2 separate regions of the Homo sapiens genome follow, and region 2 is reported to be linked to region 1. Evidence: microRNA targets listed by miRTarBase, many of them from high-throughput screens and not tested one by one. Region 1 holds a microRNA gene; the other region holds the end of a gene's coding sequence.

Evidence for each region. Region 1 holds the annotated microRNA hsa-miR-6764-3p (UCUCUGGUCUUUCCUUGACAG, at 1,046-1,066, shown strand). A microRNA usually pairs through its seed, bases 2 to 8, with sites in the 3' UTR of a target mRNA and lowers its output. Matches are read on the target gene's strand: a 7mer-m8 pairs with bases 2 to 8, a 7mer-A1 pairs with bases 2 to 7 and ends in A, and an 8mer does both.
Region 2: miRTarBase lists MAGEB4 as a target of hsa-miR-6764-3p. Seed matches in the 3' UTR shown: 7mer-A1 at 969-975.

The regions. Positions count from the first base shown.
Region 1 is chr14:100,276,352-100,279,351 of GRCh38, forward strand. It overlaps MIR6764 (microRNA 6764), which reads left to right and starts at 1,006; the gene lies at 1,006-1,066. YY1 (YY1 transcription factor) reads left to right here. Exons shown (of 5, transcript NM_003403.5): 4 at 139-297; 5 at 1,067-3,000. The coding sequence ends at 1,249. It also overlaps a transcript of SLC25A29 not described here. RefSeq lists an enhancer at 1,982-2,962.
Region 2 is chrX:30,242,755-30,245,754 of GRCh38, forward strand. MAGEB4 (MAGE family member B4) reads left to right here. Exons shown (of 1, transcript NM_002367.4): 1 at 1-1,433. The coding sequence ends at 422. It also overlaps a transcript of MAGEB1 not described here. Among named protein-coding and RNA genes, the nearest start is that of MAGEB4, 2.3 kb to the left of the region's middle.

The DNA.
Region 1 (3,000 bases):
ACCGTAATACTAAGTAAAATTAAAATGGGGGGTTGGGGAGGTGGTTTTGTTTTAATATGTCAGTAAAGGCTGTTAAATGGTTGAATCCTTTCTAACAGTTTGCAATGTGAACTTCTAAGCTGCTTTCTCTGTTTTAAGGGCTGCACAAAGATGTTCAGGGATAACTCGGCCATGAGAAAACATCTGCACACCCACGGTCCCAGAGTCCACGTCTGTGCAGAATGTGGCAAAGCTTTTGTTGAGAGTTCAAAACTAAAACGACACCAACTGGTTCATACTGGAGAGAAGCCCTTTCAGGTAGAGCCAGTTCCCTCTCTTCCCCACACTGCCTTGCCTGTCTGAACACTGCAAGTGTAGGTGGTGTGGTGATGAGGCAGGAGGCGCCAGCCCAGAGACTCAGGGTCTTATTACTCCTTGGTGAGAAACAAAACTTCTCCTGGGGAGTCGCTTAGAAGGGTTGCCGGGGCTCTGGACATCCTTGTCTATACTCTGTGGTACTGGGTACGCAATGTATTGGTGTTGATGGAGTACACTTTATGGCAGGAGGAGAACAGGATTGAAGAGCATACCTAAAACTCAATTTCTACTTCATTCATTACAGGATTGAAGTAATTTATTTTTGGTAGTTAATAGTATAATTACTAACTGATAAAGTTTCTAGAGTGTAAGTATAGGTAATACTTTAGCCCATAAATAAGTGAAAGAACTAGCAGTGCAGCTAGTAAATCTAACGTGGTTCTTTTTTGACAACTGACACCAGAACCCTTAATCATTTGTATTTTACTGTTGGAAATGTTTACAGCAGCACTAGGACTCTAGCCTGCATTTAGGAAGACTTGCCATTTTGCCAAGTGTTTTAAACAGTTCGTGAGGGCTCTCCTTGGGTTTTCGGGGTTGTCCAACCTGCCTGCTGATTCTAGACTATATCCACAAAGTTCACCCAGGGCAGGAATGAAAAGTGTTTGGTAAAATAAATAGGCTGTTCTCTAGCAAAGCAGTGAGCTCCTGACTCCCAGGGTCTGGTCAGAGTTGCTGAGTGGGTTGATCTCTGGTCTTTCCTTGACAGTGCACGTTCGAAGGCTGTGGGAAACGCTTTTCACTGGACTTCAATTTGCGCACACATGTGCGAATCCATACCGGAGACAGGCCCTATGTGTGCCCCTTCGATGGTTGTAATAAGAAGTTTGCTCAGTCAACTAACCTGAAATCTCACATCTTAACACATGCTAAGGCCAAAAACAACCAGTGAAAAGAAGAGAGAAGACCCTTCTCGACCACGGGAAGCATCTTCCAGAAGTGTGATTGGGAATAAATATGCCTCTCCTTTGTATATTATTTCTAGGAAGAATTTTAAAAATGAATCCTACACACCTAAGGGACATGTTTTGATAAAGTAGTAAAAATTAAAAAAAAAAAACTTTACTAAGATGACATTGCTAAGATGCTCTATCTTGCTCTGTAATCTCGTTTCAAAAACACAGTGTTTTTGTAAAGTGTGGTCCCAACAGGAGGACAATTCATGAACTTCGCATCAAAAGACAATTCTTTATACAACAGTGCTAAAAATGGGACTTCTTTTCACATTCTTATAAATATGAAGCTCACCTGTTGCTTACAATTTTTTTAATTTTGTATTTTCCAAGTGTGCATATTGTACACTTTTTTGGGGATATGCTTAGTAATGCTACGTGTGATTTTTCTGGAGGTTGATAACTTTGCTTGCAGTAGATTTTCTTTAAAAGAATGGGCAGTTACATGCATACTTCAAAAGTATTTTCCTGTAAAAAAAAAAAAGTTATATAGGTTTTGTTTGCTATCTTAATTTTGGTTGTATTCTTTGATGTTAACACATTTTGTATAATTGTATCGTATAGCTGTATTGAATCATGTAGTATCAAATATTAGATGTGATTTAATAGTGTTAATCAATTTAAACCCATTTTAGTCACTTTTTTTTTCCAAAAAAATACTGCCAGATGCTGATGTTCAGTGTAATTTCTTTGCCTGTTCAGTTACAGAAAGTGGTGCTCAGTTGTAGAATGTATTGTACCTTTTAACACCTGATGTGTACATCCCATGTAACAGAAAGGGCAACAATAAAATAGCAATCCTAAAGCAAGAATATGGCAGAACAAGATCTGTAAGCACAGTCTTATTTTCTTTTGTTGTCCAGAATACTTATAATTCTTGAGCCTCCCAGAAATTGGAAGCTAAATAAAGCAACTCAAGTTTCCTTTATTTTGCACTCAATTACAGTGATTATTGATGAAAGCGATGCATGGATATTTTAATACTTCCTACATGTCCTGACTTCTGAAAGAGAGTAGGTAACAGGCATCCCGAGTTCAGGAACTACCTCAGAACACCCCAGGCCAGGTTGGTCATAGGCTGTGATTTTAGCCCCCGGCAAGTGTGAGTGAAGCATCTGTACCACCGCGCAGGCTGAGCGCCTGCGCAGGGTAAGGTGCCACCTGGCAGTGGGGCACACAGAGGGAAGACCAGGCCTGTCCATCAGCCGGCTGCCTTCAGAGGCAGCTCCAGCAGGACCTTGGCTTGTCTGACAGGAAATGCTTGTGGTCGTTGGTTATTTGGTTTGAGAGCCCTTGTTCCTCCATCTAGTGGAGTCCTTATTAAATGCTAGCAATGTGGCAATTGAGTGCCAGTAGCTTAATTTCATGTTTCTAAATGGACACTGGGTGCAAATCGGCAAGGTGATTAGATTATTAGAAAATTCTGCTCAATGAGTACCTCTCACATTGTAACCTCTTAAATGTACGATTATAATGTTGGATCTTAGGTCAAATAACAGACTTGAGAATACTTTATAAACTGCCATGATACAGCAAAATCTCATTTATTCAAAGTGCAAACATACTGTGTGTCTTTCTGTTTTGTGTATGCTTGACTGCAAGATAAATGACAAACTAGCTAATATCCGAGATTTATTTACAAATGGCCAGGGACCCCATCAGGTGAAACACATAGCCCATTGTCTTAGAG
Region 2 (3,000 bases), not on the chromosome of region 1:
TGATCTTCTTAAATGGCAACTGTGCCCGTGAAGAGGAAATCTGGGAATTCCTGAATATGCTGGGGATCTATGATGGAAAGAGGCACCTTATCTTTGGGGAACCCCGAAAGCTCATCACCCAAGATCTGGTACAGGAAAAATATCTGGAATACCAGCAGGTGCCCAACAGTGATCCCCCACGCTATCAATTCCTGTGGGGTCCAAGAGCTCATGCAGAAACCAGCAAGATGAAAGTCCTGGAGTTTTTGGCCAAGGTGAATGACACCACCCCCAATAACTTCCCACTGCTTTATGAAGAGGCTTTGAGAGATGAAGAAGAGAGAGCTGGAGCCCGGCCCAGAGTTGCAGCCAGGCGTGGCACTACAGCCATGACTAGTGCGTATTCCAGGGCCACATCCAGTAGCTCTTCCCAACCCATGTGAGATCTAAGGCAAATTGTTCACTTTGTGGTTGAAAGACCTGCTGCTTTCTCTGTTCCTGTGATGCATGAATAACTCATTGATTTATCTCTTTGTTGTATTTTCCATGATGTTTCTTAAAATAGAAAGTTTATTTAGATTCAGAATATAAATTTAGAAATGGCATGCATCACACATTTATTGCTGTTTATCAGGTTGGTTTAGTGATAATAATTTTGTTTTTGAAATACAAATAGAAAATCCTGAAATAATTTTTGTGATACAGAGCAAAATAACACGGCATGGGAGTAAGGTTATCCTTAGAAATTTAAAATAACTCCACAGTAAAATAGGTAGAATCTGAAGATAGAAAGGGAAGAAAAGTAAAAGTTGCTTTATTCGTGGTTTGTCTTACTCAGTTCAGTCTTTTTTTGCTCATAAATTTAAAAGTTACATACCTGGTTTGCTTAGATTATTCAAGAATGTGGAGGCCTGGGCCAAGGTCAATGACAGTGTCTCCATTGTCTTCCCTCCATTAAGAGAAGACTTTAAGAGATGAGGGAGAGAGAGCCAGAGACAGTGTTGCAACTGGGCCTGGCATGTTTCAGTGTGGTGTCCAGCAGTGTCTCCCACTCCTTGTGAAGTCTGAGGTATATTCTTTACTTTTGATTAAGAAAACACTTAACCTTCTAATTAATGGAGAGCCAAAGGGGAGTTGGTGGGAACACCATGTATAACATATTTGTATGTAAAATGATTTATCTTTTCTTTTTCCTGTTTTTCAGTGTTCTTTTTTTAAATTGTAGATTTATTTAGTTTCAGAATCTAAGTTTATGAATGGCATGAATCACTCATTTATTAAAATATATCAGGTTGGAGAGTGAGAATTTTTGCATTATGTAAAACAATTTAAAAATCTTTTAAGTCTTTTTCTGTGATCTAGAACAAGATAATATGGCATTGGAATATGGAATTTGTGAAAAGGAAATTACCTTGCAATAAAGTTGGTGGGACCAGGAAGTAGAGAAAAAAAAAGTAAAATGTGGTCAATTCTTGCTTTGTTTTATTCTTTTTAGTCTTTCTTTGTAAAACTGAAGTATATGTACCCGGATCTGCTTAGCTTTTTCAGGAATGTGGGGGAAATTAAATAGCAATACATTTGACTTCCTGGTCACTTACACTTCAATTGTCCAAATATTAATTGAGCAGCTGTACTTTGGAGGGCTCCTGGCTAGTACCGGATAAGCTAAGAAAACAAAAAACAAACAAACAACAAAAAAACCCCAATCCCTGCCCACAGAATTTTAGAATCCAACAGCAGCTATCATATAACGAAGGTAATGAGATACTCCTTAAGACCTAAAGACAGGTGAAAAGGGGATAAAAAAGAAGGTGGGGGTATTACCAGCAGTGGAATCTAGTGTAAATGTCCTAAGCAAGGTAACTGAGACTTCGGGAAACTGAACATACTGCAATAGGAGGTAATTTTATGTCCTGGCATAGTGCCTATATGGGGCGCACTGAGCAGGGGTCACACACTCAGATGGTGGATCTCACACTTGAGAGATGGAGACTGGAATGAAAAATTGCCTTTAACAGTTACTTTGGGATTGTGGAAAAACCAGAGGGGATCTTTGCCTGGAGCAGGGATTGAAAGTGGCCGGTGCTCTTGTCCCAGTGCAAGTGAAGTGAATCCAGTACACAAACTAGGTGTTTTATGAGCGTAGTCCCCAGGGTGTTTCTGAGAAATAAAGGTGATACTCCTTTAAGACTGGAAACTCATAAGCCACTGGGCTAATACTCTGCTATCAGCTGGGGAGCCAGAACCCATTCCATTAAAAGGAATTTTTTTTCCTTTCATGTGTTTTTGCAAATTCTAAGGGAGATCTAGATTTTTGATGGTGGTAAAATGAATGAAAATAAGACTGGTTTGGATGAAAGGTCAGAGTTGGTCCTTGAACCAAAGCCTAGAAGGTTTGAGTTGCTTTCAGCTGAGAAAGACAACTCCACACTCAAAATATGATTTAATATGGAAAAGTTATTTAGAGTTTCTTTGTAAGCTGCGTTTTGGGCTGATTTTATTGTTCCATGTCTTAGAATGCTGTATATTCTTTGTTATCTCTTGGACTTAAAGAAAATCAGCAGGGTGGATGATTTCTTCTGTAGTTGAAATAATCTTAGTAATAACAAGTATTGTTTAAAGTCTCAATGCACACCAGGGCTTTGCACACTTTCACCACATTCCACCAGTCCTACAAGACAAGGCTTATCAAGCTCATTTCACAGATGTAGAGCCTGAGGCTCATAGAGTTTATTAATGTGCCCAAGTTCACACAGCTAGTAAGTGATAGGGCTGGAACTAGACTGCTGGTCTGAATTCCTCTAGAGCCCACACTGTTCCACTCCTCCCAAACTGAAGCTTACTGTGAATTGCTTAATTCATTTTCTTCTACAACCCCAAAGTGTGTCTCAGGTAAGAAAGAAGAGGTCTCTGTACCCCAAACACTGGATTGGAATACATAACCAGAGCAAGAAGAATACCAAAATAATTGACAGATGTGAATTAAAGAGAAAAAGAAATAATACTCGGTGACAATATGAT